Linked DNA regions of Homo sapiens: all the other regions are linked to region 2. Evidence: fine-mapped expression QTL. A gene starts in region 2. Each other region holds a variant in brackets. All regions are shown on one strand. Distances are from middle to middle.

The links.
Region 1: its variant is fine-mapped to the expression of NAPA in CD4 T cells (BLUEPRINT, PIP 0.95).
Region 3: its variant is fine-mapped to the expression of NAPA in whole blood (TOPMed, PIP 0.92).

Annotation. Positions count from the first base shown.
Region 1 is chr19:46,975,051-46,985,891 of GRCh38, reverse strand. The region is part of intron 3 of ARHGAP35 (Rho GTPase activating protein 35); the gene reads right to left. Among named protein-coding and RNA genes, the nearest start is that of NPAS1, 39 kb to the left of the region's middle. RefSeq lists enhancers at 8,067-8,922, 8,923-9,780. The variant A/G (reference allele first, on the strand shown) is at 6,547.
Region 2 is chr19:47,509,485-47,520,325 of GRCh38, reverse strand. NAPA (NSF attachment protein alpha) reads left to right here and starts at 5,263. Exons shown (of 11, transcript NM_003827.4): 1 at 5,263-5,483. The coding sequence starts at 5,386. RefSeq lists silencers at 1,820-2,114, 4,975-5,314 and an enhancer at 4,615-4,884.
Region 3 is chr19:47,573,888-47,584,728 of GRCh38, reverse strand. It overlaps the pseudogene RN7SL322P. Among named protein-coding and RNA genes, the nearest start is that of ZNF541, 6.2 kb to the right of the region's middle. RefSeq lists an enhancer at 6,775-6,854. The variant G/C (reference allele first, on the strand shown) is at 6,163.

The sequences.
Region 1 (10,841 bases), 530 kb after region 2:
CCAGACTTCTTGAGGCTTCAAGAACACTGGAGCAAGAGGCATCAATTCTCTGGCTTAAAAGCTGTTAATTGCACCAAGGCCCTTTCCCCGAGAGAAAAGGAGGTTAATGGACCAACCCCAGGGACATCCTACCAAGCAACGCCTAGTTACAAAGGAGCTGCCACTGCTGTACTCGCCTGGGAGAGTGCTGGCACTTTCCATATCAGAGTGGTCACACGCTGTGCACTGAGCTAGGTGCTTTGTCCCCATCCACCATTTGCTTGTTTATTAAATAAACGATGATGCCATTTAATCTCCCACACCTCATGGGAAGAGCTATTGGGTAGGTAGAGAATACACACATGAGGAAACTAAGATTCAGAAAGGTGAAGTCCTTGCCCCAGATCATAGCTGCTAAGAGGCAGAGTGGTCTGAGTCCGGGGACTCTGCCACTGTCCTGCCTCCTTAGTGTTCCAGAAGACACCTGGCTCAAGCTTCTGCTGCTTCCTATTAATCCACCAGGCTGGGGTACAGACCACAGCACCCCCGTTTCTCAGAAGCAGCACCACACTTGGGTGAAGCCCTCTGGCCTAAGCACCAGGGCAGCTTTTGAGATGGCACACCCGTACCCCCTGTGCTGTCGAGACCCTGCTCACCAGCACTAGTTAGTAATTTTTCCACTGACTCTTTTCTCAACTGCTCTCAAGACATATTTAAACTTCTACCTATTTCACATATGAGCAAGCCTTGGGTATGTGTCAGCAGGCTCAAGTCTTCATCTCCTAATTTGAAAAAAACAAATAAAACTAAATCTAAGTTATTTTCCCTTTCCCTGAATATCAGCCCTACATAATACAAAGAAAATGACAGGACAAATAGCACCAGTCTCAAGAGTCCGGAATAATGCAGCAATGTCACCGTTCCTGAGTCTCAGTGTAGAGAGGCAGTCTCCGAGCTGCAGAAGACCTGGCCAGCCGAGGGCCGCACATCACCTTCTGGTGACCCTGACCTTCAGCGGGACTGAGGACTGCTCTGCATTGCCTCATAATGGCCACCGGCCCCGGCATGAGAGGGCAGGAGACGAACTGCAAATTAGCGATCTGGCAATTATCAGTGGTGTGGACCTGCTGAAACTTCACTAGATGGATCGTCACACAAATGGAAGCACTGGAAAGCACGAGGCCGTACCAGAGCATCAATTAATCATCAACTTAGTACTTCCTGTCATCTGGGCACATGTTTATTTTACGCAATCCCATTTTAAAATAGCAACCCTGCTGCTGTCGTACACAATACCACGGCGTAATTTAGGAAAGGTAGCATTTGCTTGGCTAGTGCAATTTATCGTAACTACTAATTAGACATCAATTAAAAAAAGATTAAAAAAACTGAGAGCAGGCTGCAAACACCACCAAGGCTGCAGGGAGCTGGCAACCCAGGTGAGAAACAGGACGCTGGAAAGAGCACGGGCAGCTTGCCAAAGGCCTGAGACCACAGCAGGAAAAGGGCTGGGGTCCTGGAGCAGACCCCCTGGCAAAGATGCTGGATATTAAGGCATTTGTGTCTAGAACACCCCACTGTTCCTACATGGAAACACCCTAGGGGTGACTCTGGCCCACACCCGCCAGTGGCAGAAGGCAGAATTCTTACCAACAGTGACCTCCACCCACCATGTCTACTGCAGGCTCCCAAGTCCATCTGAGAAAGCCTCAACCTTAAACTCACAGGCATCCTTACCTACCAGAAATCTCCAAAGACCCATGTCACCAAAGCATAGCCTTGGCTGCAGGCCTTTTCTGTTTCTCTCCTTCTTTTTTAAAAGCCCTCCCTACTGGCTGCAATTATCTTCTATGTTTAAGTTAATCTTTGGAAATAGAACAAGAAAAAGCTCAGAACAGCCAAGATCACTATGTTCAAATATCTGAACAAGGCCATGTAGAAAAGTCTTGTTCCAATGGTTCTAGGGGACAGAGCTACAATCAAGAATGGGAATTACAAGGCTGGGTGCAGTGGCTCATGTCTGTAATCCCCGCACTTTGGGAGGCCGAGGCGGGCGAATCACGAGGTCAGGAGATCGAGTCCATCCTGGTTAACATTGTGAAACCCCGTCTCTACTAAAAATACAAAAAAAATTAGCCAGGCATGGTGGCGGGTGCCTGTAGTCCCAGCTACTCGGGAGGCTGAGGCAGGAGAATGGCGTGAACCTGGGAGGCGGAGCTTGCGGTGAGCTGAGATCGTGCCACTGCACTCCAGCCTGGGTGACAAAGCGAGACTCTGTCTCAAAAAAAAAAAAAAAAAAAAAAAAAGAATGGACATTACAGAATGGCAAATATTCTCTCAATATATAACTATTAACAGCCATAGCTGTTATTCATTGAAATAGACCAGAATTTTTGAATCTCCTCTCACCAGACAACCATCTGACTGGGGTACTGTTTAAAAAGATGAATACCTGGTCTAGGAAGCTAGCTAATAACAATAATGATAAGCCATTTATCAAATGCTTACTCTGTATGAGGCACACGGTGCTAAGTGCTTTCGTGCCTTTTCATAGCAGTTCTCACAATAACCCCTCCAGACTGGTGATTATTATCCCATTCTACAGACAGGAACGCTGAGACCAGGAGGTAAAGGAACATGTAGAGAATGAGTGAGTCGCACAGATGGGATTTGAATCCTACCTGAGTTCTTCTTCTATGATGCTCAAAATCACTATTTCTCAAGAGTGAGCATGCAGCAGAGTCACCTGGAGGGCCTGTTACGGTGCAGGTGCGGGGGCTCCAGCCACAGAGTTTTGGATTCAGTCAGTTTGGAGGGGAGCCCAAGAATTTTTTTTTTTTTTTTTTTTTTTTTTTTTTGTACACAAGGTCTTGCTTTGTCACTCAGGCTGGAGTGCAGTAGCACCATCTTGGCTCACTGTAGCCTCAACCTCCCAGGCTCAAGCGATCCTCTCACCTCAGCCTCCTGAGTAGCTGCGAGGGACTATAGGTGTGCACCACCACACCTGGCTAATTTTTAAATTTTTTTTTCGTAGAGATGGGGGTCTCACTTTGTTGCCCAGGTTGGTGTCAAACTCCTGGGCTCCAGCGATCCTCTTGCCATTGCCTCCCAAAATGCTGGGATTCTGGGTGTGGGCCATTGCGCCTGGCCTCAAAATCTGCATTTCTAATGCATTCCCAGATGATGCTGCTGCTGCTGGCCAGCGAACCACACTTGGAGAACTGCCATTCTAGAAGATGTGCCAGAGCTCTAAGGCTCCAGAGAAGTCTTAGTCAGAACTCTTGAATTCTATGATTCAATAAAATCAGGGGTAATATACCAGGCAAAATAGATACCACATACTTTAGGAACAAAGCACTTCCAAACAGCATGAAAACTGCTGCTTTTTATACGAAAACAAGCCCTTAGGCATTGCTTAATCTTTTTTTTTTTTTTTGAGACAAAGTCTCACTCTGTTGCCCAGGCTGGAGTGCAGTGGCTCAATCTCGGCTCACTGCAACCTCCGCCTCCTGGGTTCAAGCGATTCTCATGGCTCAGCCTCCCGAGTAGCTGGGATTACAGGCGCCTGCCACTGCACCTGGCCAAGTTTTGTATTTTTAGTAGAGATGGGGTTTTGCCATGTTGGCTAGACTGGTCTCAAACTTTTGAACTCAAGTGATCCGCCCGCCTTGGCCTCCCAAAGTGCTGGGATTACAGGCATGAGCCACCGCACCCGGCTCCTTTACACAGTTTTCAGTCTTGGTCTTCCACAAAAATACTTTGGCAGGGCAGGCGTGATGGTTCCCGCCTATAATCCCAGCACTTTGGGAGGCCAAGGCGGGAGGATTGCTTGAGCCCAGTTCGAGACCAACCTGGGCAAAACAGCAAGACTCCATCTCTACAAGAAATAAAAAATTAGCCAGGCATGGTGTCATGCTTGTAGTCTCAGCTACTTGGGAGGCTGAGGTGGGTGGATCATTTGAGCCTGGGAGGTTGAGGCTGCAGTGAGCCATGTCCATAACACTGCACTTCAGCTTGGGAGACAGAGTGAGACCCTATCTCAAAACAAAACAAAACAAAACAAAACAAAACAAAACAAAACAAAACACCAAAAAATACTTTGGTGACATAGGAAGACTAGACGGCCCTCCGGTGAGAGCTGGTGGGGACTTCCCCATGGACTAGGAACTGGTATTTCAGCCCTTCGACTGCCCTGTCAGAGCTGTGGTGGCTGGCCCTGCTCCTGGGAGGTGTCTGTGGCAGGACGGACACTAAAAAAATGGAGAGATGCCCCTCAGGAGCTTGGAAATCAATGGGGAAAATCACCTCCTTTCCTGGTATCCTGATTTTCTGAAATATCCAAACAGGTTTTGATCCTGGACCCCAGGCAGGCCCTTCTTAGCAGCAGTGCTGTCGGCCAGCGTCAGGCTTCGCCTCTGCTCCTTCACACCAGGACTCAGTTCCTCCAAAGTTTCCTTTCTAGCAACACATCAATACTTCCTCCAAGACGAACTCAGACTTGCTTATTTTTTACTTTCTATATTTAGATATAGAAACTCAGCACTTAGTCCTTTAAAAAAATTTAATTGGCACTGCTAGTACTCTAAAACACCCCATGCCAGGCAGGACTTAACTAACAACTTTTGTCGACTTTTCTGGAGTCTGGAAGCATCTAATAAACCATTCCCTTTTTCTTTTACACATGCAAGACTAAGTCTAAGGCAGGCTAAACTGCAAGGCCGGAGGGGTGCTGAGCACTCAGGGAGAGAAGGAAACTCTTTGAGCATTAAATTCAAATGGTCTTGAAGAGGACCGACCTCTGTGGAAAGGTATGAAGCCCTTCTTTTTCATCCAATGCTAACAGTGTATCTATGGTGTGTCTTCTGAGGACCACACTGCGGCACTCCCCCAATCTCACCTCAATGGAAGATCAAAGGGTGAGGGGGCAGGAGAGCATTTAGGTCAAAATCAAAGCAATCATGTCTCCATTTCCTTCTATGTGTAACAGAGATAACAGTTCTCACCTCATCCCCTGGTGGTATGTATTTAATGAGATCTTAGCACTTAGTGCTGAGAGAGTAGCTATTATCCTAATGATCTAAGTGGAAAGCTGGTTGGCAAGTGGATGAGCACCTGAGTTCTGCTGTCAGGGAGACATGGGTTCGAATCCTGCCCCTGACCTCAGCTAATCTGACCGTACAATGGAATAAATGAGATCGTCTATGCACAGTCCACTGCACAATGCCTGCCAGTATTCTTTTTTCTCTACACTCTTAACAAGCCTCAACAATGGCACCTGCCTGTAGGCATGACCTATTCTGAGAGCGTGGCCAAAACAAGACAGTTTGTAGAAAAACATTTTAAAACATGCATGGCTTTGACACCAAAATGACCTTGGTTCTGATCCTGGTTCTGTCTTATAGCTAGGCTGGGTGTCTGAGAGTAAATCGCCTCTCCTCTCAGGGGCTTGGAATCCTCATCCAAAATGGGGTAATGACATCATTAATGAGTCTGTCAAGATGCTGTAAATATTATTATTATTTTTGAGATGACAAGAGTTTCACTCTTGTTGCCCAGGCCAGAGTGCAATGTGCAATCTCGGCTCACTGCAACCTCCGCTTCCCGGGTTCCAGCGATTCTCCTGCTTCAGCCTCCCGAGTAGCTGGGATTATAGGAACCCACCATCACGCTTGGCTAATTTTTGTGTTTTTAGTAGAGACGAGGTTTCACCATGTTGGCCAGGCTGGTCTTGAACTCCTGACCTCAGGTGGTCCGCCCACCTTTGCCTCCCAAAGTGCTGGGATTACAGGCATGAGACACCGCGCCCGGCCCTCAATTTTCTCTTCTATGAACTGGAGGGCAAGGATGTCTGGCCTGAGAAGAACGACGGCCTCCTCTCCATAGAGAAGGTTTCCTCGCTGTGTCTCTCCGCAGAAGCGCTACTATTGAAATCACACGAGTCCCCGCAGCTCCCCCTGCTGCCTTCCTGCTCGGGAGGTGCCTGGGTGGTTTTCTGGCTGCTCTCCTCCTTGAACACTCGGGTCCTCTGTCCCTCCCCTGCCCCTTCGTTAGCTGTCTTCCCAGGTAATTCCCCTGTCAGTCAAGACCTGCTTCTTCCTGTGCCAGACTTTCCCCCCATGATAGAAGGCCACTAACACTCTATTACGATGACTTGACTGGGTGTGAGTGCCACAAGCAGGCACTGTGGCTTTATACATTCCCGATGCCAGCGATGCGCACACGGCCATGTCATAAATCTCAGGGCTGAGGAGGAGGGAGGAGGTGCAACATCGCACCAGGTCTGGGGGATCAGATGGCTCTAGCATCTGGCTGATCCTTCAGAAGCTGCCTATGCATTTGCTGCCATGAACCGTCAAGTAGGACTTCTGGACCTGCTCTGAGCCCAACAGGGGGCTCCATTCTTTTCCCTGACTTTCAAGAAAATGCATATCCCAACAGCTGGGCTTAAGAAACCACGCTGGCAAAGAACTTGAGGCCAGCCTAGAGCTGACACCCTGCCCATTCTGGAGGAAGAGTGTGGTCCATAATCGAGGTGAGCCGACTGCGCTCTGCAAAACGGGAGTGAAC[A/G]TTCAAAGCCAGGAGCAGCTGGGAGAGCCGTCCTGCCAAGAACGTGAGACGTCTTCATGCTCTGAAGTGTGACTTTGCTGGCATGCCCACGCAGGCCCAGTGGCACTGGAGTGATGGCAGTGTGACTCCGAGGAGAGCTGGTGCCACCACTGTGAGGGATCTTACAGGCTAAAGATCCACCAACAAAGAAACAGACCGCGAGCACAATACAGGTGTACTACATCCACCACATACACACCCCCCTACAAACACACACACATCCCACCACACACACCCCACCACACACACACATCCCACCACACACCACACCCCCCCACACCTGCCCCACCACACACACACACACGTCCCACCACACAAGCCCCACCACACACACACTTTCCACCAAACCCCACCACACACACACAGCCCACCACACAAACCCCACCACACACACACCCCACCACACACACCCCCACACCACACACACAATCCCACCAAACCCCACCATACACACACCCCACCACACAAATCCCCCACCACACAAACCCCCTACCACACACACACATCCCACCACACACACCAGACACATTCCACCACACACATGCCCCACCACACACACACACCACACAGACTCCACCACACACACATCCCACCACACACATGCCCCACCACACACACATCCCACCACACAAACCCCACCACACACACCCACCACACACACATACCCCACCGCACACACAGCCCTACCACACACACCACACCACACCCCCCCCACACGCCCCACCACACACACATCCCACCACACACACACCTCACCACACACACACATCCCACCACACACACACATCCCATCACACACGCCACCACCACACACACACATATCCTACCCCCCACACACAGACCCCACTACACACACACACAAAACACCCGCTTCCTTTCCACGGCAGGCCCAAGTAGAAAAGCCCCTTGGGGTTACAAGCAGATTCCTCCCAAGCATTAAGGAGGGCAGAGGTTAACTTCCTTCAGGTTCCTGATTCCCAATGACCCATGAAAGGAGGCAAACATGTCACCAATCACAGCCCAGTGTCCCTTCCTTTCCTGGCCTCTCTTCCCTAAGAAAGAATACTTTTCAGAGTCAGAAGCCTGTAAGCCTCAGGCAGGAAGGCTGATCCCAGTCCCTGCAATCTAGGATAAAAATCTAGGGTACAACACAAACTTCTCAACATGTGGCCTCGGGGGCTCCTGTCACCAGGCTCAAGCCTGCCACCCTCCCCTTATACTTCACTGCAGTCCTGATGAACTTGCAGGGCCTCCCTACAGTTGTTCCTTCCACTTTTACCTCTGTTCTGTGACTAAACAATGCTCCCTCCGAGGTCTCCCCTGACTCCTAGACTAAATTAAGTTCCTGTTATAGGATCCCAACAATTGCTTACATTTACGCAGTGCCGGCACTCTGGGCCAAGGCCAGCCATAAGCCTTTTACATGCACTGTCTCACCCAGTCCTCACACCAGCTCTGTGAGTTGTATTCTACCATTCTTCTTCCCATTTTATAACTGAACAAACTGAGCCACGTGGCAAACAGATGGCAGGGCTGGGATTCACACCCGGGCAGTCCGATTCCAGAGTCTGTGTTTAATCAATCACCACAAGGCACTGTCTCCATGCTCTTCCTGGACAGCCCTGGGCACCATGTGAAAGTCGCTGGATAGCTGTGTGATTAGCTGCTTAATGCTGGTCCCCTGGTAGACCCCTGAGTTCACAGGAGCAGGCAGAGTCCTCTCATCACCCGTCTGTGTATTGGGCTTGCACAGTAACTAGTACCAGGGAAGGCATTCAGTAGCTGTCTTCAGAAAGGAGGGAAGGAGGAAGAAAAGTGCAGCGTTTCTCCAGCTGAAGAGAGGGAGGAAGGCGACTCAAGTGTTTGTTCTCAAGGGGCCTGTGCCTTACTGGGGCCAGCATGGAGGAGCTGCTCCCTAAGCGGCTGGAGCATCCAACTCCTACTTTCCTTTCCAGATGTATTGAGGTTCTACATTCACCAAGAAGCCTTCTCCCTCCCCTTCTTCCCGGTAACTTCACTAGGAACGTAGTGGGTTCATTATTTCGCCACAGCCAGTCATGTGCTGCTGTTAAGTCTGGTCTCCAGACCTGGCTGTTAACTTTTACAGGGCAGAGCCATGGTTTGGCTGTGGCTGGGAGTCCCCACAGGGCCACGCCCCCTGCAGAAGCTGGCCACATTCTTGCTAATGGGCTGCTCTGTCGCCTTTTATCAGGGCTCAGCCTTCCCAGACTGACCTTATGCGGGTCTTAGATGTTTTTACAGTGAGTGTAACACGGAGGAGAAGAGGTTAGTTCATCTGTGCTTCACTGGCTTTGGTGAAATGAACAGGAAAAAAGCAGAGGTCAAGGAAACTGACAGGGGTTATAGAGGCATGGGGATTTGCTGGGTGTGAAACCTCATGAGCAAGGCAGCACAGAAGGTGTGCGTGTGAGTGAGATGAACAGACAGACACAGAGCAAGAGCAAGGGCCACCGGAGCCCCCAGGTGATAATTCAATGGCACAGTCAGGCCAGCTCCACCAAGGGCCCGAGAAGGTCCTGCAGCCGAGAGTGGGTACTGCTCCTTGGGACCACTCTCACAGGACAGCCTGCTGTACCGTCCTGTTTGTACTGCCTTGGCAAATATGGCAGGACAGGCCATGGGCCTGGTTGGCACGCTCAGGCCAGAGCAACCTGTCTGCCCGAGCTCCCCACCATGGAGAAGGCGAGTGCAGCCGGGACAGCCAGGCAAAGCAGCCGGCTGGAACCGTCTCGGGGCCTTGGGCCGCCACCCAGACTATTTCTGTCTTGGATGGAAGGCCAGGGTTACTTTGTGAAACAAGCTCTACTTCTCCTTGGCTGCTGGGCTCTCCAGGCGGTGTGCCAGGGCACACTGTTCTGATCAGGGCACTGGGGCCTGAGGAAATCCGCTAGCAATGCCGAGTCACAAGCTAAATGAACCCTGCTTATCTGGAACAGGCAAGAGCTGGCGAGCTGACTGCCTGCCTTTATGGCAATGGGGAATTTCTGGAATGCAAGTGACTTGTGCTTAACTTATAAGCAAGCAGAAAAACGGGAGGGTGGTGAGGAATGGTAGCAAAAAAAAAAAAAAAAAAAAGGAGAAAGCTTTGTTTTAAAACTATTTGGACTGTGGGAAAGCAATTTGTTAGTAAAACTAGAATTACAGGGGGAGGGAGAGAGATTAAGTAACAGACAGCCCCCATAAAAATCACAGCATATGAAACAGTATACCTCATATTTTAGCACTTTATCAATTCAAAGCAGTGCAAATACGGCAATTACTCACATAAAGCCTGTTGGTGTATTCAAGCTATAACCGTACCTATTAAACTGTTACAGTGATAGATGGGAGTATCTATACTGAAATTAGCTGCCTTCTCTGAAAGACAGAATTACATAGATCTAGGCTGACTGCAGGGAAATAGTAACTAACTGAATTTAACAGCTCTCGTCCCGCCAACTCTCCTTCATGATAGCTCTAGGAACTGGTGGCTATGATGAATGTGGAGGGAAACACGGAGGTTTTTTGCAGGGTGGCTGTTTTCCAAGTGGGAAGGTATTTGGTAAAATTCTGAATCTGCTCAGTCCAATGCTATAAAACTCACAGCTTCATCAGCCTAAAGCAGAGAAGACAGGAAAAGGGCTGGAACGTAGGCCTTTTCCATTCTGATGGGCTGTGAACGGCCTCTGCCAGAGGACTTGGGGATTTCTGTTTCCTCTTGTAAAAAGGGATTAGCATTACTTTGAGATTAATACTGTCCTCTGGCTCACGGGAGATTAACTAATAAACCATGTATGGGGTGTAAAGTGAAGAACAAGCCCCACACAGGCCCAGGATTCTCACTGTGCTGCCGCGGCACACTGGCCCCTGAGCTCCCAGCCCCAGGCTGGGCCCTCCCTGGTGCTCCTTCCAGATGTAGAGGCTGGCAGCCTCCTCTCCTGCGCACCCTCAGAAGGGTGCAGGAAGCCCACTAGCAAGGTCTTAAATTTAGGACCCCTGCAGGAGGGGATGGGGCAGTGTAGTAGAAGAAATATATATTTGGTTTTTGTCCCCGGCTCCTAGCACAGAGTTCCCCAAAGTCTTGGAATTTCCTGAGTGATAGAAGTATCTTTTGTTACTCATTAACAAGCCCCTTCTGGCCAGGCATGGTGGCTCATGCCTGTAATCTCAGCACTTTGGGAGGCCGAGGCAGGCCGATCACGAGGTCAGGAGTTCGAGACCAGTCTGGCCAACATAGTGAAACCCTGTCTCTACTA
Region 2 (10,841 bases):
GGAGTTTGGCTGTCCCAGTAGGGGCTCAGCCTTGAAATCAGGGACCCCTGGCAGGGGCAGGGGCAGGGGCAGAACGAGGGCTCCAGCAGAGGCGAGAATAACCTCGAACCAAAATCCAGACCGGCAGGGGGCGGGCGGCGGGGGAAAGAAGAGAAAACAGCCCCCCTCCCTGCCTCCCTTTTTAAGAGTGAGGAAAACTTTTAACAGCTCCCAGCAGATGCCCGTATGTCTCATTGAGCCTGTGTTCGCTTCTAAACTGATCCCTGTTAGTGAGAAGGGAAATGACCACAGTTAGCCTAGACCACTCAAGATGCAGCTCCATGGCCAGGTGCAGTGGCTCTCTCCACTAATCCCAGCACTTTGGGAGGCCAAGGCGGGCGGATCATGAGGTCAAGAGATCAAGACCATTGTGGCCAACATGGTGAAACCCCATTTCTCCTAAAAATACAAAAATTAGCTGGGTGTGGTGCCACATGACTATAATCCCAGTGACTTGGGAGGCTGAGGTAGGAAAATCGCTTGAACCTGGGAGGTGGAGATTGCAGTGAACCGAGATTGCGTCACTGCATTTCGGCCTGGTAGAGGAAGACTCCATCAGAAAGAAAGAAAGAAAAGAAAGGTAGGCTCCGCAGTGGCTCACACCTGTAATCCCAGCACTTTGGGAGGTCAAGGTAGGTGGATCATTTGAGGTCAGGAGTTTGAGACCAGCCTGGCCAACATGGTGAAACTCCGTCTCTACTAAAAATGCAAAAAAATTAGCCAGGCATGATGGTGAACACCTGTAGTCCCAGTTACTCAGGAGGCTGAGGCAGGAGAATCACTTGAACCTGGGAGGTGGAGGTTGCAGTGGGCCAAGATCGCGCCACTGCACTCCAGCCTGGGCGACAGAGTTGTCAGTGGCTCACACATCAGTGGGAGGTGGTCAAGGAAAGGACAGATCAAGGCCAGCAGGGCAGGTTTGAGCCTGAGCAGCTGTAGTTGATGCCATTAGCTCAGATGGGGAATTGACTGCAGAGGATTGATTGCATCAGGGTGTGATCGTGTCTATGATAGGGTGAGCCGTGTTCTGAAGAGCTGGGAAAGTAGACGGCAGCGTGAGAAGGTTTCACAGAGGGCCCACCTATCAGCTAAGGCTTAAAGATTGGCTGGGAGTGGGGCAGAGGTGGACGCTGAGTTTGAAGCAGTTGGAACACTGCAGTTAAGGGAAAGGGTTCAGGTGTGAGATGAACCTCAATTCCATCCTGGCTCCTCTTACCTCCTTGTAAACTAGGGCGAATCACTTTCCCTGTGGGAGCCTCAGTTTTCTCAATCTGTAAAATGGGATGAAAATTGCCCCTCCTCAACCCCCGCAACCTATCAGTTAAATAAAATGTAAATTATGGCCAGGCGTGGTGGCTTACGCCTGTAATGCCAGCACTTTGGAAGTCCAAGGTGGGCGGATCACTTGAGGTCAGGAGCTCGAGACCAGCCTGGCCAACATGGTGAAACCCCATCTCTACTAAAAATATAAAATACAAAATTAGCCAGGTGTGGTGGTACATGACTGTAATCCCAGCTACTTGGGTGGCTAAGGCACAAGAATTGCTTGAATCCAGAGGCAGAGGTTGCAGTGAGCAGAGATCGTGCCACTGCACTCCAGCCTGGGCAACAGAGCAAGACTCCATGTCAAAATAAATAAATAAATAGAAATAAAATGTAAATTAAGCACTTGGGAGGGTGCACCATAAGAACTGAATGGCTACTAGTTAACAAGCTCTCATGTGATTGCTAATATTGTTTGGATCCCATCCTAAATAAATCCAATGAACTCTGGAAATGGAAAAAAATTCCCTGGTTGAAAAGGCTGAGGGGTTATATTATCTGTTGCTGCATGACAAATTACCCTGAAATGGAACAGCTTAAACAGAAGCTTTTACATAGTGTTGCTTTGACAGACATGGAACCAAAACCGCTTGTGGTAATCCAGGCTCACCCCCACCTGCTCTGTGGTCAGGACACAGTGGCAACCACAAGTAGGTGGTCCAGGCAAGTCTATTCATGTATGAAGAGAGTTGGGGGAAGGCTTCTTATGCCTTGCTCGGCTCAGCCAACCCCCTAGATAATAGCGGTTTCTCAAACTGTGGTCCCGGGATTATCTGCATCCTAATTTTACTTTTTTTTTTTTTTGAGATGAGACAGGGTCTCACTCTGTTGTCCCGGTTGGAGTGCAGTGGCACAGTCATAGCTCACTGCAGCCTCAAACTCCTGGGGTCAAACAATCCTCCCACCTCAGCCTCCCAAGGAGTAATTAAAATTTTTTTAATTTTGTGGAGATAGGATCTTGCTTTTTGCCTAGGTTGGTCCTTAACTCCTAGGCTCAAGCGGTCCTCCCGCCTTGGTCTCCCAGAGTGTTGGGATTACAGGCATGAACCACCAGGTCTGGCTGCATCCTAATTATATAGGGTTCTGTTTTTTAAAAATGCAGATTCCTGTGACCCACCACAGACTCAGAATTGGAACCATTGTGGGTACGGCCTTGGAAACTGTTTTATTTAAAGAAGATTTTTAGGATAGTTTTAGATTTGTAGAAAAACTGCAATGACAGCAAAAAAAAATTCCCACATACCCCAGTTTCCCCTATGATTAACATCTTATATTAGAATGGTACATTTATTACCACGTATGAACCAGTATGGCACAATATTATTAACTAAACTTCATAGTTTATTTAGATTTCCTTAGTGTTTTTGTTTGTTTTGAGATGGAGTCTCACTCTGTCACCCAGGCTGTAGCACAGTGGCACAATCTCGGCTCACCACAACCTCCACCTCCTGGGTTCAAGCAATTCTGCTTCAGCTTCCTGAGTAGCTGGGACTATAGGCGCCCTCCACCAGGCCCAGCTAATGTTTGTATTTTTAGTAGAGACAGTGTTTCTCCATGTTAGCCAGGCTGGTCTGGAACTCCTGACCTCAGGTGATCCACCCGCCTCAGCCTCTCAAAGTGGTGGGATTACAGGTATGAGCCACCGCACCCGGCCAATTTCCTTGGTTTTTTAACTCAATGCCCTTCTGTTCCAGGATCCCACCGAAGGTAAGACATTACATTTAGCAGTCACGTCTCCTTGGCTGTGATGGTTTCTCAGGCTTTCCTTGTTTTGATGACTTGACAGTGTTATTTGTTTGAGACGGAGTCTCCCTCTTGTCCCCCAGGCTGGAGTGCAGTGAGGCAATCTCCGCTCACTGCAACCTCCACCTCCAGGGTACAAGTGATCCTCCTGCCTCAGCCTCCCAAGTAGCTGTGATTACAGGCATGCACCACCTCACCGGGCTAAGTTTTTTGTATTTTCAGTAGCGACGGGGTTTCCCCATGTTGGACAGGCTGGTCTCAAACTCCTGGCCTCAAGTGATCCTCCTGCCTTGGCCTCCCAAAGTACCAGGACTACAGATGTGACACACTGCACCCACCAACAGTGTTGAGGAGTACTGGGCAAGTATTTTGGAGGATGTGGCTCAACTGGAATTTGTCTAGTGTTTTTTTCATGATTAGATTGAAAGATCCCAGAAGTAAAGAGCCATTTTAATCACATGACTTATCAATGTTGAGGTTAACCTCAATCACCTAGATGTCAATGTCAGGTTTCTCCACTGTAAATTTAGGCTTTTTCTCCCCTTTCTTGTACCCTCTTCTTTGAAAGGAAGTCACTATGCACAGTCCATACTTACAGAATGGGGAGGTATCCTTCACCTTCTTGAGAGCAGAGTATCTACGCAGATTATTTGGAATTCTTCTGCACAAACTATTTGTCTATTCTCCCCCCTTTATTTATTTGTTCTATATTCATCTATATGACCATAGGCTCATGGATACTTTATGTTTGGGATTATAATCCAATACTACTTTATTTTGATGCTCAAATTGTTCCAGCTTTGGCCATTGGGAGTTCTTTCAGTTGGCTCCTTTGGCATACCCCCTAATTTTGTGTGTGAGCACACGTGTGGAATACTTCCTTCCTTTCTGGCACTACAAAGTTATACTGAGGTGAGCTATGATTGTGCTGCTGCACTCCAGCCTGGGCGACAGACCGAGACCCTGTCTCCAAAACCAACAACCCAAAGAGTGAGACCCTGTCTCAGAAACCAGCAACTCAATTTTCTGGGACAGCAGGAGGTGTGTTTGAGCCTAAACTTTTTTTTTTAGAGACAGAGTCTTGCTATGTTGCCCAAGGCGGGACTTGAACTAGACTCAAACTCCTGGGCCCAAGCGATCCTCTCGCCTCCCGAGTAGCTGGGATTATAGGCACGAGACACCGCGCCCATCTTCGAATCTGAATTTTTTTTTAACACGCTCTCTTCAGCTATTTTTTTTTTTTTTCTGAGACTAAGTCTCACTCTGTCGCCCAGGCTGGAGTGCAGTGGCACGATCTCGGCCCGTTGCAACCTCCACCTCCCCGGTTCAAGCGATTCTCCTCTCTCAGCCTCCTCAGTAGCTGGGATTACAGGAGTGTGCCACCACACCCGGTTAATATTTGTATTTTAGTAGAGCGGGGTTTCGCCATGTTGGCCGGGCTGGTCTCAAACTCATGACCTCAAGTGATCCGCCCGCCTCGGCCTCCCAAAGTGCTGGGATTACAGGCGTAAGCCACCGTGCCCGGCCCTCTTCAGCTATTTTTTATGAAACCAGAGTTAGAGAACCTCTTAAGTTTTTGTTTGCAGTCTCTCTTCACCGGTCTCCCCAAAGCAGTTCTAGTACTGGCCGACAGAGGGAGCAAGAAAAAGCAGAACGGTTTCCTTTTCCCACAAACGCCTTTCCAAGTGAAGAAACCGGCGAGACCAGCCGCGGGGGCGGGACTAAGTTCTGCGCAGAACTGTCAAACCCGGGCGTGGGCCCCGAGCTGTCACGTGAGTGTCTGCGGTCAGCTGACTGTGCCAGAGTTCCGCGGGGAGGGCGAGTGGGGGACCCCCCGCCCCAGCGCGAGCCGAGGGCTCCTGCTGATTGGTGGAGGAGGATCCAGCAGCAACACCGTGGGGCGGGGCCTCGGCGGGGGGTACTGCCATTGCCTTCCACAGGGTCACGTGGGAGGTGAGGTACAGAGCGCTGGGGAGAGAGTGGAGCGCCGTTCGCCGGTATGTGCGCATGCGTTGAGGTCTCTTGACGCCGATTGGGGGGTCACGAGTCACGGGCGGCGTGCGGCGGCTGGTGGGGGCGTGTCCGGCGGAGCGGGCGCGGCGTTACGAGGCCGCTGGTTGGCCAGCGCTAGTCACGTGGTTCCTGGCCGCAAGCGACGCGCGCCGGTGCGACGTCAACGCAGCCGGGCGAGTTTTACCGATCTGTGTTCCGCGGCCCGGCCGCGGCTGAGTCTTCCCAGGGTCAGGGTCAGGCGCTTTGCTGAGTCCCTTTGTGGCCGCCATGGACAATTCCGGGAAGGAAGCGGAGGCGATGGCGCTGTTGGCCGAGGCGGAGCGCAAAGTGAAGAACTCGCAGTCCTTCTTCTCTGGCCTCTTTGGGTGAGAACCGGGCTGAGGGGTCGGCCGGGACCTAGGCTGAGAGGACGAAGGAGTCACGCTCGGAGGTGGCGGGTTAGGGCACGCAGAGCTCGGGCCGAGGGGACGGAGAGGAACCTGCAATAAGGTGACATGGCCTGAGGCGGCAGAGGGGACGCAGGCTGAGGGCCAAGAGCCTGGGCCGGGGCAACACGGTTTGAGGAGAGACGGTCTGACATGGCGGAAGGGATTTGGGCTGAGGACACACGGACCGAGGCGACACTATCTTGAGGCGAGGAAGGGGACCCAGGCCGAAGACAGGCCAGCGGGCGGGGGAGAACCTGGACCGAGGGAGTACGTCCTGAAGCCTTGGAGGGGACCGGCCTGGGGGGACGGAGGGAGTCCGGGAGAGAAGCCAGGTCCAGAGGCTTTTCGGAGCTCTAGGGGAGTCTGTTTGAAGGCTCTCAGGCGGCAGTGATGGGGCCTGGGGCTGAGGACGCCTGCCCGAGGGACTGACCTTTTCAACCCCTGGAGCAGTGGATTTGCGTGGGCCCTGGGCGGTGAGGGTGAAGGCTGAAGGGGGCTGACACCAGGCAGAGGGGCTCAGGGCTAGATGATCCTAGGAGCGGTGAGCCGCGTCTGAAGTGTGGGGGGTGCATGGGGTGAGTACGGCCCTGGTTAGCAGTGACTAGTTTAAGGACAGCTGAACGGAGGAACCCGGGATGATGGAGTCAAGACTGTGGAGGTCTCAGCACTTTGGGAGGCCGAGGTGGGCAGATTATCTGAGGCGGGGAGTTCGAGACCAGCCTGGACAACATGGTGAAACCCCGTCTCTACTAAAAATACAAAAGTTATCTGGGCCTGGTGGCGGGTACCTGTAATCCCAGCTACTCGGGAGGCTGGGGCAGGAGAATCACTTGAACCCGGAGGTAGAGGTTGCAGTGAGCCGAGATCGAGCCACTGCACTACAGCCTGGGGGACAGAGCGAGACTCTGTCTCAAAAAAAAAAAAAAAAAAAAAGAAAGAAAGAAAGAAAAAAGCCTGAGGAGGCCTGGGTTGAGGCTGGAGACTCCTGGGTGGGGGAATGCGTGGTGGTGGCTTGGCCAAGGAGATGGAGGGATAACAGGGAGAGACAGGGGGACTGAGAGAACCAAAACGGGGGATCAAATTCCTGCTGTGTGATCCTCGAGTAATAGGGATGACAGAGACATGCTGAGAAGAGGGATGGGAAAAGGCCTGGGAGACAGAACTAACACATATGACGTGGCATAAAACTCACGTTAGCTCCTAAAAGCTGACACGACCATCCTGTGATAAATTGTAGTGGCTTAGAAGTGCCAAGAGCCCAAGTAGCTCTGCCACTTACTTCATGACTTTGGGTAAATTGTTTAGTCTCCCTGCTAAAGGAGATCACAAATCAAACCTACCTCCCATTTGCTATGAGTGTTAGAATTGAGCCTGGCGTGGAGTTACATCTCTGAGAGTGTTAGCTGTTGTTAATGTGACTTCCAGAAGGAAACAGGTTCGGAGCGTGCAGAGAGCTGATGGGGGTTCAAGGTGGACGCCCGAGCGGAGAGGTCTGGGAGGGGTCAGGAGAGGGAGAGACTGAGAAACATGAGTGTGCTAAGAGGAGCTGAAAGGGAACAGAAAAGGGATCCACGAAGACTTAGTAGGGTTGAGAGGAGCATGAGGCTCTGGGCAGAGGAAGGAGAAGGGAGTTTGGCAGGGGGCGGTGGTGTGGGAGGTGGTGGGATCTGTGCTGATGGGACGACCCGAAAGGGTCAAGGGGAGGTTGTGGAAACTGAGAGGAGACCTGGGAAAGGACTAGTGGGCTTGTAGAGAGAACAGTGTGTGGTGGCCACTCAGAAGCAGAGCCTGGGGACGGTGGTGGGACTGGGAACATCTGCAGAAGGCTGGAGAAGGGGGTTTGGGAGGAGGGCCTGGGGATGGGAAGAGACTGTGGTAGGAGCCTGGCAGAGGCTGGTAAGACACGAAGGAGAGGGATCTTTACAAGAGAGGAAGGAACAGGAAAAGGGCTCTAGGCCACGCCCCTTGTTTGAGGTTGGATAATGTTTAGCAAAATAACTTGAAGAACATGATGGCGAATTGCCTGGTGTGGAGAAACATCCGGGGCTGATGGACTGGATTGATTAGGTGAAAAATGTTTTATTTTAGAGGCTGCGAGGAGAGAGAGGGTGTGTGTGTGTTTCTTTTTCTTCACAAGGGGAGAAGTTCAAGTGCTGTGTTTGGGGGTGGGGCCACGAGCTGGGTTTTTGGTGATAGTTTTCCTGGGTGGCTCTGGGTGTCTGGTCCCTTTGGCCCAGGGATTAGTGGGCTGTTGGACTGTGTGCTTGGAGGGAGCAGCTAAGTCAGCCCCAAGGCATTTGCTACCTGATTGGGAAGGCAGGATGAACAGCAAACACCAATAAAGTGGAATTACCTACTGTAAGGAGGGGCTCGATGATGTCATTCCTGTGACTGTCTGAGCTCAGAGGAAGCAGCGTGAACCAGGGGGAGGCTCTTGGTGAGGAGTGAGCTGGGCCCCAAGGAATCCCAGGACTTGCTGGGGAGTGGGGCCGGGGAGGGTGCTCTAGGCAGCAGGGATGGTGCAACAGAGATCTACCGTGACGGGAGGTTCTGCCTGGAAAGACAGGGAACTGAGATCCAGAGGGATCAGAAATGGCTTCCTGGGGGAGAGGCCCCAACCCTGGGGGGATGAACATGAGTTCTGGGGTGCTCTCTGGCAGGGAGCAGCACTCCAGGCAAGGATTATTATGGAGCATGCCTTAGGAAGATGGAACACAGGGAGTTCCACGTTAGACCATAAAGGTGGAAGCGGCAGGTGAGGCCAGACAAGGAAGGTCTGGTGAGCAAGGGCTGGGCCTGGAGGAGGCACTGAAGATCTCCGAGGAGGCTAAGGGAGGCCCATCCTGGCGAGCTCCTGTTTGCCTTCTAGAAAGGACTGCAGCAGCTGGTGTGGGGGAGAGTGACAGCAGGAGGCTGTTGCAGTGCCGGTAATACTAGCAGATGCTGGTTATTAAGTGCTCGCTCTGACTCAGACCCTGGCCTGGGCCAGGCTCAACCTGCTGATGGATGGTATGGATTTAGTCCTTACAAAATCCCCGTGGAGGTAGAGAAACTTGGGGGCTTAGAGAAGTTGACTTATTTGCCCAGCCCCACAGTAAGTGGGAGAAGTGGCATTCAAACCCAGTTCTGTGTGATTCCAGAGCCTTCTCACTTAGCCCCTTTGCTGTGCTACCACGGTAGTTTCTCCTCAAGGTTCATGACCATCTCTGGGCACTACATTTAGGAAGGATGTTGGCAAACTAGGTGTGTTGGAGAGCTGCCACCCTCTTAACTGTCCTCCCATGGCTGTTTTCTCCAAATATGTGAAAAAAAGAGCTGGTGTGTTCATCTCAGTTCCTTCCAGCTCCCAGAGGAGCTGACCTGGTGCTGTGGGAGTATGAGTGAGGTTAGGGCAGAGGGCAGGGAGGATGGGAGGCTGGCCTGACCGGAGCTTGTGTGCCTGGGAGCTGGGAGCACAGCCAGAGGCCAGCTTGGGAGGACCTGCTTGGCGGGCGGGAATCACTCAGGCACCTCCTCCTCTCTGATCTGGGTTTGCTTGTGTTCAACATTTCATAACCCACCTTTATTCAAGGTCCTTGGTAGCTGCCGGGACTGGAGAAGGGAGCGTTGCGGCTCAGCTTGTCCTTGGTGCCTCTCCCTTCCCCTTTGGGAACCCCAGCAATGACAGCATCCCACATTGAGGGGCCTCTGCCCCTGTCAAAGGGCAAGTCAGAGAGCCCGCACCTGGGACGCAAGGCGATGGGTGTCTGTGCTGTCGCCTGCCTTGGTGCTCAGATGCCACCCTTGCTCTTCATTATTTCTGGGCTGCCAGACGCTAGGGGGCTTTGATGCACCAGCAGCCACTGAAGGCGACAGCACCAGCCAGTTAGGAGAAGCTCAAAGCCATACCTGTTCCTCCCCTTGGTGATGGGGGCGCAGCTCAAACTTCTGCTCTGGAAGCAAAAAGACGGAGACTTCCTAACTACAGCACAGTGAGCCAGCAGCAGAAGGGGATGGCTGAGTCCAGGCACACTAGTTCCTCCTCCCTGCTGCGTGTCTCCTGGGGAATCCAGAGTGCCTGCTGTGCCGTTTGGGGATCCTGCAGGTTCTGAATGGCGGCTCTGTTCCCTGGGGCTTTTCCTCATCCCTGATGTTTCCCAGCCACCTCCCCTGTCCCCAAAATAGCCAAAATAAAAACTTCCTTCCTCTTGGATACAAACGTGTAGAGGGAGTTTCTTCATCTGTGAAATGAAAATCATGGTAACTGTTTCCTCAGGTGGTTTTAAGGATAAATGAGACGATGTGTGGGAAGTGGTGGGAGCACGTTGCCTGGCTCTGCTAATGTTTATTAAGGGCTCACTGTCATCTTTATTAGTAGGTATTGTCATTGGAAGTTGAGCTAGAAGTGCTGGAGAAATAGGTGGCAGAGGGTGTTCTGTATACAAACAGTGCATTCCTAAGATCAGATCTTGACAAATCAGTTCCTGTTTGAACTACCTGTAGGCAATAACGGCGGGACCCTGGGAGGGCCAGCTTGTCTGTACAGGGCCTGCCCAGGGCCTTGGCTGAGACTGGTGTGGGCACGAGCTTCCAGATTTCTCTCCAGACCGCCTTCCTCTGCAGAGCGTGCAGAAACCCCGGCGCCATTTCCAGTGGGCACCCTGGTGAATCACAGTGCCCTGCCAGCTGCCAAGATCCACAACTGAAAACTTGGCATCTCTTGCCCAGTCTCAGAGTGGAGTCTTTCCTGAGGGCACACAAGGTTTCTGGGGAATCCGAGAGTTCCTGGCTTTCCTGATGGATAGGACTTTGCTGCCTGGCCATACAAACATTTCCGTCTCCTTTTTGGGATGGGGCTACTGAGAGGCAAGGGTCTTTGAGAACACCTTTTAAGAAAAAGGAAGTACATTCGCCCTTGGTCTGTGGTGAAATGTAATCCCGTTGGGGTGCAGGAGGGCATCCGTATAAGAAAATAAGAAACAGGGCGCCTGCCAGGCTGTGTGCCGTGTGGCAGGTGAGATCCTGGCTCTGAGCTCATCTCGAAGGGCCGTGGGCCTGTATGTATTTTGAGCATTGTGCAGTAAGGGGTGGGGCATGGGAGGCCAGGACTCTGGAAGCCGAAGGAGGAGCATTACTTAGCTAATCTGGGATGGAGATGAAGCCCATGCTGCTATTCTGAAGTAGGGAAGCGTGCCTGGAATCGGTCCTCTGCGGGGCCTGATGAGAGGGATGCTCTCGTTTACTGAACGCCCGTGGTGTGGCCAGCTCTCTGCTGGGCACGCCGTGGGGTGCTGCCTGCAAGATTGCTCGTGCTTC
Region 3 (10,841 bases), 64 kb before region 2:
TTGTATTTTGGATAGAGATGGGGTTTCACTTTGTTGGCCAGGCTAGTCTCAAACTCCTGAGTCTTGAACTCCTGACCTAAAGTGATCTGCCCACCTCGGCCTCCTAAAATGCTGGGATTACAGGCATGAGCCACCATGCCCAGCCACATCTTTTTTTTTTTGAGACAGAGTCTCACTCTGTCACCCAGGCTGGAATGTAGTGGTGCGATCTCAGCTCACTGCAACCTTGCAACCTCCACCTCCTGGGTTCAAGCGATTTTCGTGCCTCAGCATCCTGAGTAGGTGGAATTACAGGCGCAAGCCACCACACCCAGCTAATTTTTGTATTTTTAATAGAGACAGGGTTTCACCATGCTGGCCAGGCTGGTCTTGAACTCCTGACTTCAATTGATCCACCCACCTCAGCCTCCCAGAATGCTGGGATTACAGGTATAAGCCATCGTGTCCGGCTCTGTCTGGGTAAATGCTGGGTAATGCTCTGTCTGGGTAAATCCACTGCACCCAGCCTTACTTATGCATGTTTTTACATCCAAAGCAACTGTGGCCAAATAAGATTTTGTCAGAGACTGGCAGATTTAAATTCATTTATTTTAAAAGTAATATTTGGGAGGCCAAGGTGGGTAGATTGCTTGAGCCCAGGAGTTTGAGATTAGCCTGGGCAACATGGCGAAACCCTGTCTCTACAAAAAACACAAACATTAGCTGGGTATGGTGGTGCATGCCTGTAGTCCCATCTACTCAGGAGGCTGAGCTGGGAGAATCACCAGAACCTGGGGAGGTCAAGGCTGCAGTGAGCTTTGATTGTGCCACTGCACTCCAGCCTGGGCCACAGAGTGAGACCCTGTCTCAAAAAAAATTAAAAAGTATTAATTATTAGCTGGGTGCAGTGGCTCACACACTTTGGGAGGCTGAGGTGGGGGGATCGCTTGAGCTCAGGAGTTTCAGACCAGCCTGGGCAACAGAGTAAAATGCCATCTCTAAAAAAAAAAAAAAAATTAATTATCTACTGCGTGCCAGGCACTGTTCTAGGCAACAAAACAGACAAAGCCCCTGCCAGCATGAAGCTTACATTCTAGCAGAGAGACTGACGATCAACAAACAACCAGGTGTGACGTGATGTCAGGTAGAGATGAGCTTCCCGAAGAAAATAAACTGGAGAGAATAGTCAGTGGAAGGAACCTCCCAGCAGGGGACAATTGAGCATAGACTGAGGAGGGGAGGGAAGAAGCCAGGTGAATCTTCTGGAAAGAGGGAACAGCATATAGGAACTTGCTCTGTTGGTGTGCTTGGAGGAGAGCAAGCCTGAACAGAGAGTGGAGGTGAGGCCAGAGGGTGGACAGACCAGATTTACAGGATGTGGCGAGGGATGTTGGATTTTATTGTGTGATTTTGTTGTATTTTATTTATTTATTTATTTATTTATTTATTTATTTATTTATTTATGAGACAGAGTCTCTGTCACCCAAGCTGGAGTGCAGTGGTGTGATCTTGGCTCACTGCAACCTCCACCTCCCAGGTTCAAGCAATTCTCCTGCTTCAGCCTCCCCAGTAGCTGGGATTACAGGCATGCACCAGCACGCCTGGCTAATTTTGTATTTTTAGTAGAGACAGAGTTTCTCCACGTTGATCAGGCTGGTCTCAAACTCCCAACCTTAGGTGATCTGCCCACCTTGGCCTCCCCAAGTGCTGGGATTACAGGTGTGAGCCACTGCAGCCAGCCAAAGAGAGGAATTTTTACATCACTTTTAAATAAGCCCATTTTCAAATATATATAAAAATAAAAGAGTATGATTAACTCCACATGCCGGTCACTGGGCCTCACCAATTATCAACTCATGGCCAATGCTGTTTCATTTCTACCGTCTCTCATTGGCCCCACCCTCACCCCACTAGATAGTTTTAAAACACATCCCAGACATCACATCATTTCATGTACAGATTATTCATTTCATATCTCTGGAGATAAGGTTTGTTTATAGAAATATAACCACAATCCCGTGATCCATCTAAAAAATGCACCATAATTCTTTCCTATCATCGAATAGGCAGTCAGAGTTCAGATTTCTCTACTTGTCTGATAATTTAAAAACAAAACGAAACAAAACATTGGTCTGTTCGACTCAGCATCCAAAGTCCTTGGGTTGCATGTGGTTGATTTGTGGCTACAGTCTCTCTTATCTCTCGGTTCCCTCAAGGGAGGAATTCTTTTTAAAAAATGAATGGAAGAGGCAGGAGCATTTGAGGATAGTGATGGGCATGATTTGGCAGAAGGAGAGAGAGATGATGAATGATATAGGAGACAGGAAGAGAAAGAGGAGAAGAGGAGGAAATGAAGAGGAGGGAGGAGAAAGAGGGGGGAGGGCAGGAGGAAGAGGAGGAGGAGAGGAAGAGGAGGGAAGGAGGAGGGGAGGAGGAGGGGGAAGGAAGAGGAGGAGGAGGGGGAAAGGAAGAGGAGGAGGACAAGGGGAGGATGAAGAGGAGGGGAGGAGGAGGACAGGCAGAGGAAGAGGAGGAGGAGGGGAGGAGGAAAAGGAGGAGGAAGAGGAGGAGGGGGGAGGAGGAGGAGAGGAGGAGAAACTTCAATGGAAGAGGAAAGAGGGAGAGAAGGAGGGAGGTGGAAGGGAAGAAGGAAGGAAGGAAGGCAGGGAGGGAGGGAGAGAAGGAAGGAAGGAAGGGCGGGAGGCAGGGAAGGAAGGAAGGAAGGAAGGAAAGAAGGAAGGAAGGAAGGAGGGAGGGAGACCCCAATCCTTGAGAGAGGGAATCACAGGGACAGATGACAAGGGGGTTCCCTTCTGATGGCTTCTATGTGCACAGGGAAGTGTGGGACCTAGTCATGGGCTGGAGGGCAGGGGGGAAATGTAAGCACACCAGAGACACATAGAGAGTGCCCTGCGCCTGTCTGAGGCCTGTGATTTCTCTGATTCAGGTAAAACCCGTTGGGCTGGCTGGGTGGTTTCCTTCTGCTGGGCTCGGCTGGCACAGAGAAGAGGATGGCTGGAGTTTGGCCAGGTGAGTCCTTTAGAGGCCGAGAGGAGTGAGGAGTGTGAGAATGCTTGAAGGACGTGATTCAAAAGACAAATCACAGAAAGCAATGCTGAACAAAGTGAATAGATGGAGACAACAGGAAAAGGTTGGCAGAGAAGAGGAACCTGCGGCCAGGGTGTACCCCTCTCCTTCTGAAGAGCATCTTTTCCCTTAGCTTCTCAGGGGCTTCCATTTTATTTTGTTTTGTTTTGTTTATGAGAGATAAGGTCACATTTTGTAGACCAGGCTGGAGTCCAGTGGTACAATCATAGTTCACTGCAACCTCGGACTCCTGGGCTCATGCGATCCTCCCACCTCAGCCTCCTGAGTAGCTGGGACTATAGGCACATGCCACCACATCTGGCTAGTTTTTTCTTTTTTTAAGAGATAGGGTCTTGCTATGTTGCCCAGGATGGAGTGCAGTGGCTATGCACAGGCATGATCCCACCAGTGATTAACACAGGAGTTTTGACCTGCTCCATTTCCAACATGGGCCAGTTCACCCCTCCTTAGGCAACCTGGTGATCCCCCGCTCTCAGGAGGCCACCAAACTGATGCCAAACTTAGCGTGGACCCTGCATTGGCATAGTGTACTACAGCCCAGAACTCCTGGTCCCAAGTGATCCTCCTGCCTCAGCCTCCCGAGTATCTGGGACCACAGGTGTGTGCCACCATGCCTGGCTCCCTTACTTTAAAAAAAATAATAATTCTATCTATGTCCCTAAACTGCTTATTGTTTAGCTTTGCCTGTGTTTTGAAATGATATTTATTTTTGAGACAGAGTCTCACTGTGTTGCCCAGGCTGGAGTGCAGCGGTGGGATCATGGCTCACTGCAACCTCGACCTCCAGGGCTCAAGTGTTCCTCTCACCTCTGCCTCCTGAGAAGCTGGAACTACAGGCAGATCACGCCACCATGCCCAGTTTATTTTTAATTTTTCTTGCCATGTGGTCCAGGCTGGTCTTGAACTCCTGGCCTCAAGTGATGCCTCCTGGCTCGGCCTCCCAAAGTGCTGGGATTACAGACACGATTCACCACACCCTGTTGAAATGTTATATGTAAATGGGAGCACATCTGTGTTGCTGTGTGTAATGGAAATTGACTCATTTTCACTGCTGCATAATACTCCATTGAATAACTATACCACGATTTATCCAGTCTCCTATAGGTGGACATTTTCATTTCCTTTCCTTCTTTTTTCACCCTAAACTTTTTATTTTGGAGTAATTTTAAATTTACTGGAAACTTGGAAAGATGGTACAAAGAGTTACCACATCCCCCTCACCCTTTCCCTGATGTTGGCATCTTACTTTATCACAGGACAGTCATGTGCCACATAACAACGTTTTGGCCAATAAGAACTACACATATGACAGAGGTCCTGTAAGATTATAATACTGTATTTTTACTGTACCTTTTCTTTTTTCTTTTCTTTTCTTTTCTTTTTTGTTTGAGATGGACTCTCGCTCTATCGCCTAGGCTGGAGTACAGTGGCGAGGTCTCGGCTCACTGCAGCCTCCGCCTCCCAGGTTCAAGTGATTCTCCTGCCTCAGCCTCCCAAGTAGCTGGGATTACAGGTGCCTGCCACCACACCTGGCTAATTTTTGTATTTTAAGTAGAGATGGGGTTTTACCATGTTGTCCAGGCTGGTGTCGAACTCCTGACCTCAGGTGATCCACCTGCCTCGGCCTCCAAAGTGCTGGGATTACAGGCATGAGCCACCACGCCTGGTCTACTGTACCTTTCTATGTTTTGATGCACAAATACTTACCTTTGTGTTTCAGCTGCCTACAGTATTCAGTACAGTTGCATGCTGCATGTTTGTAGCCTAGGAACAATAGGCTACACCATACAGCCTAGCTGTGTGCTAGGCTATACCATCTGGGTTTGTACAGCTTACGACGTTCACGCAACAAGGAAAAAATCACCTGAAGATACATCTCTCAGACAGATCTCCGTTGTTAAGTGACACAACTATACATTTGTCAAAACTACAAAAACATTGGCCAGGCTCGGTGGCTCATGCCTAAAATCCTCATACTTTGGAAGGCCGAGGCAGGCGGCTCACCTGAGGCCAGGAGTTTGAGACCAGCCTGGCTAACACAGTGAAACCCCGTCACTACCAAAAAATAAAAAATGTATAAGCCAGGCATGGTGGTGCACTTCTGTAGTCCCAGCTACTCAGGAGGGTGAGGCAGGAGAATGGCTTGAACCTGGGAGGCGGAGATTGCAGTGAGCCCAGATGGCACCACTGCACTGCAGCCTGGGCGACAGAATGAGACCCTGTCTCAAAAAAAAAAAAAAAAAAAACACACACACACAAAACAGGCGGGGTGCAATGGTTCATGCCTGTAATTTCAGCACTTTGGGAGGCTGAGGCGGGCGGATCACCTGAGGTCAGGATGAGTTCTAGACCACCCTGGCCAACATGGTGAAACTCCGTCTCTACTAAAAGTATAAAAATTAGTTGGGTGTGGTGACGGGCGCCTGTAATCCCAGCTACTCTGGAGGCTGAGGCAGAACCTGGGAGGCGGTGGTTGCAGTGAGTCAAGATCATGCTATTGCACTGCAGCCTGGGAGACAGAGCCAGACTCCATCTCAAAAAAAAAAAAGGCTGGGCGTGGTGGCTCACGCCTGTAATCCCAGCATTTGGGAGGCCGAGGCCGGCAGATCACGAGGTCAGGAGATCGAGACCATCTTGACTAACACGGTGAAACCCCATCTACTAAAAATACAAAAATTAGCTGGGCGTGGTGTCGGGCGCCTGTAGTCCCAGCTACTCGGGAGGCTGAGGCAGGAGAATGGCGTGAACCCGGGAGGCGGAGCTTACAGCAAGCTGAGATTGCGCCACTGCACTCCAGCCTGGGCGACAGAGCGAGACTCTGTCTCAAAAAAAAAAAAAAACCCCAAAAAGTGGATACATTACTATTAACTAAATTCCAATCTTTGTTGAGATTTTTTCTTTTTTTTTTTTGAGACAGTCTTGCTCTGTTAACCAGATAGGAATGCAGTCCTGAGCTAAAGCAATCCTCTCGCCTTAGCCTGTGGAGTAGCTGGGACCACAGGTGTGTGCTACTATGCTTGGGTAACTTTTAAAATTTTTTCGTAGAGACAGGATCTCACCAAGTTGCCCAGGGTG[G/C]TCTTGAACTCCTGAGCTCAAGTGATCCTCCTGCCTTGGGGTCCCAAAGTGCTGGAATTACAGATGCCTGGCCTTTGTTGGAGATTTCTCTAGTTTTTTAAGTAATGTCTTTTTTTTTTTTTTTAGATGAAGTCACTGTCACTCTGTTTCCCAGGCTGGAGTGCAGTGGCACCATCTCAGCTCACTGACAGCAACTTCCACCTCCCAAATTCAAGCGATTCTCCTGCCTCAGCCTCCTAAGCCTTAGCTGGATTACAGGTGCCTACCACCATGCCCAGCTAATTTTTATATTTTTAGTAGAGATGGGGTTTCACCATGTTGACCAGGATGGTCTCAAATTCTCGACCTCAAGTTATCCACCTGCCTCGGCCTCCCACAGGGCTGGGATTACAGGCGTGAGCCACCATGCCTGGCCTATTTATTTATTTATTTATTTATCTTGTTCCAGGATTATTCAATCCAGAATCCAGGATCCAATCTGTTTCTTTCCTTTCTTTTCTGTTCTTTTTTTTGCTATTACAAACATTGCTGCTTGTTCTTCTGTTGCATCTCTTGGCGCACATGATCAAGAAGTTTTCTAGAGTTAACCCCTGGGTTTGTCAGTGTGGTTCTACCAATTTTACCTGTCACTAGTCCTGTATACTCAGTTCGTCTTGCTTCAGCAAACAGAAAAAAAAAAATGTTTTTTGATTCACCGAAGTGGTAGGTGTGCTGCGGTATCTTTGGTTTTAATTTGCATTCTCTTGTTGTTGTGGTTAGTCCTCACTTCATGTTTCCTCTTGTATGAAGTGCCTCTTCAAATCTTATATTCTTTTTTTTTATTAGGTTGTCACCTTAATTTGTAGGCCTTTAAAATAAATGCTAAATGCTTTTTTTTATTTGAGACAGAGTCTCGCTCTGTTGCCCAGCCTGGAGTGCAATGGTGCGATCTCGGCTCACTGCAGACTCAACCTCCCAGGTTCAAGCAATTCTCCTGTCTCAACTTCCTGCGTAGCTGGGATTACAGGCACGCACCAGCACACCTGGCTAAGTTTTGTATTTTTAGTGGAGATGGACGTTTCACCATGTTGGCCAGGCTGGTCTCGAACTCCTGACCTCAGGTGATCCACCTGCCTTGGCCTCCCAAAGTGCTGGGATTACAAGCATGCTTGGCTAATGCTAATTTTTTGTTTATGTGTTGCATTTATCTTCTGTGTCCATGAAGTGTTCAATGTCTATCAATGACAGAAGATGCTAATTTATTTCAGGAGCTTAAGTCCTGTTTTTTAACTAGATTCTCATCTGTCCAGTGGCTAGGATCCTTATTTCCTCCATCAAGAAGAGAGATTACATGGCTGAAACAAAGCATTTTTAAAATGTGTGCTAAATAAGCGAAAAAAAAAAAGAAAACAAGAAAAAGAAAAGAAGGCCAGGCACAGTGGCTCTCACCTGTAATCCTAGCACTTTGGGAGCTGAGGCGGGTGGATCACGAGGTCAGGAGATGGAGACCATCCTGGCTAACATGGTGGAACCCCGTCTCTACTAAAAATACAAAAAATTAGCTGGGCGTGGTGGCACGAGCCTGTAATCCCAGGTACTTAGAAGGCTGAGGCAGGAGAATCACTTGAACCCAGGAGACAGAGGTTGCATTGAGCCGAGATGGTGCCACTGCACTCCAGCCTGGGTTACAGAGCGCGACTCTGTCTCAAAAGAAAAAAAAGAAGAAAAAGAAAAAAGAAAAAAAGAAAGAAAATAAAAGAAACAAACAAAAAACCCCACAAAACAAAAAGTGTGCTAAATAAAGGAAGAACCCTCTGAAATTGTTTCCAGGAGTTTAATTCCTGCCTTAGCATGACCTGTAAGTCCCTATGCCATCTGCCCCTAGTTTCTTCACTCACGTGGTTCTGGCCACACTGGTCTCTCTTCTTCTGATTTTTTTTTTTTTTTTGAGACAGAGTCTCACTCTGTTACCAAGGATGGAGCACAATGGCGTGATCTCGGCTCACTGCAACCGCTGCCTCCCAGGTTCAAGAGATTCTCATGCCTCAGCCTCCCGAGTAGCTGGGACTACAGGTGTGCACCACCATGCCCAGATAATTTTTTGTATTTTTAGTAGAGATGGGGTTTCAACATGTTGGCCAGGCTGGTCTCGAACTCCTGGGCTCAAGTGATCAGCCTACCTGGGCCCCCCAAATTGCTGGGATTACAAGCATAAGCCACCATGCCTGGCCTCTCTGCTGTCTTTCAAAAGGGTTCCACATCTTCCTGCCTCAGTGCCTGTGCACGTGCTGTTCCCTCTCTTCTTCCCCCAGATATTTTCATAGGACCCTTCCTTACTTCCTTCAGATCTCTGCTCAATGCAATCTCACCAGAGAAGCCTTTACTGACCTGTATAAAACAATACCCTCTGACCCCATCCTCTTTCCTTTGTTTTTCTTCAAGGTATAACATACTGCATTATAAATGTATTTGCAGCCAGGCACGGTGGCTCACTCCTGTAATCCCAGCATGTTGGGAGGCCAAGGCAGGAAGACTGCTTGAGCCTAGGAGTTCAAAACCAGCCTGGCCAACATGGCAAAACCCTGTCTCTACTAAAAATACAAAAAATTAGCTGGGTGTGGTGGTGCAGGCCTGTAGTACCAGCTACTCAGGAGGCTGAGGTGGTATAATAGCTTGGGCCCAGGAAGTCAAGGATGCAGCGAGGCATGATTACAACAATGCACTTCAGCCTAGGTGACATAGTGAGACCCTGTATCAAAAAAATACAACAAAAAAAGTAAATGCATTTGCTTGTCCCCCTGTAGAGGTATGCTGTCAGTACCAGAGCCACTCGCTACAAGGTTCCATGGAGCCCTGGAAATGTGGCTGGTCTGAATTGAGATGTCCCGTGAATGTAAAATACTGTATATGTGGGGTTTTAAAGACAGCCCCAAAAGTGTAAATTATCTCTTAGTTTTTATACTGATAATGTGTTGAAATATTTGGGATTAAATATTACCAAATTAATTTCACTTGTGTTTCTTTCTCTTTTATTTTATTATTTACTTTTATTTATTTGATTTTTAGGTTTGGGTGTGTTGCCCAGGCTGGTCTTGACCTCCTGAACTCAAGCAATCCTCCTGCCTCAGCCTCTCAAAGTGTTGAGATTACAGGTGTGAACCACCACACCCGTCCCAAGCCATTTTTTTTTTTTTTTAAGAGAATGGGTCCCACTATGTTGCCCAGGCTGGTGCAGTGGCTCTACACAGACAGGGCCATAGCTCACTGCAGTCTCCAACTCTTGGGTTCAAGTGATCCTCCTGTCTCAGCCTCACAAGTAGCTGGGCTACAAGTGCCAGCCGCCACACCTGCCTTCTTTACATTTTGTTCCTTTTAAACATGGCTACTAGAAAATGTAAAATTACATAAGTGGCTGGTGCTTGAAGTTTGCATTTTATTACTACTGAACAGCACTGCTCTAAAACATAAGTTCCAGGAGGAGAGGAATGTCTGTTTGACCCAGACACTATATCTGAGCACCTAGAACAGAGACCCAATAAAAACTTGCTAAATGAAGGGATCCTAAAGCAAGATGACAGGCCCTCTTCTTTCCTCTGTTTCCTCCCCCAATAATCAATTAAAAAAAAAAAAAACTTTGAGGTATAATTTACATAAAAGTCACTCACTTAAGTGTATACTTACTGATTTTTAGAAATTTACTGAGTTGTGCAACCATCACCATAACCCTTTTTTTCCCCCATCAGAGTCTCGCTCTATCCCCCAGTCTGGGGTGCAATGGCCTGATCATATAGCTCACTGCAGCCTTGGACTCCCAGGCTCAAGCGATCCTCCTGCCTCAGCCTCCCAAGTAGCTGGGACTACAGGCGCATGCCACCATCTCCAGTTAATTTTTTTTTTTTTTTTTTTTTAGAGACAGGGTTTCACTAGGTTGCCCAGGTTGGTCTCAAACTCCTAGGCTCAAGGGATCCTCCTACCTTGGCCTCCCAAAGAGCTGGGATTACAGGCGTGAGCCACCACGCCTGGCCCATAGCTCAGTTTTAGAATATTTCCATTACCCAGATAAGATCCGCGATGCCCCTTTCCACCCCGGGCAACCACTAATCTGCTCTCATTCTCCACAGATCTTCAGCACTCCGTTTCTAAGGAATGAATTATCTGCCTCAGTTGCAGGACAGTTCAAACCCCTTGGCCAGGTCGGGCACGGTGGCTCAGGTCTGTAATCCCAGCACTTTGGGAGGCAGAAGCAGGCGGATCACCTGATCACCCGAGGTCAGGAATTTAAGACCAGCCTGGCCAACATGGTGAAACCCCGTCTCTACTGAAAATACAACAAATTAGCCGGGCGTGGTGGCACGTGCCTGTAATCCCAGCTACTCGGGAGGCTGAGACAGGAGAATCGCTTTAACCCGGGAGGCGGAGATTGCAGTGAGCCGAGATCGCACCACTGAACTCCAGCCTGGGCGGCAGAACAAGACCCTGTCTCAAAAAAAAAAAAAAAGAAAAAAAAGATGGTCCTTGGCCAGTCGGCACCAGGGCCTACCGCCCTTCCCAACACAGCTCAGCACGGAGCAGGGGCCCCAGATGGCTCAGCCTTTCCCCAAAGAAGGGAGGAATAGGCTGGGCGCGGTGGCTCTCACCTATAATCCCAATGCTTTGGGAGACTGAGGCAGGAGGATCGCTTGAGCCCAGGGGAACCAGGC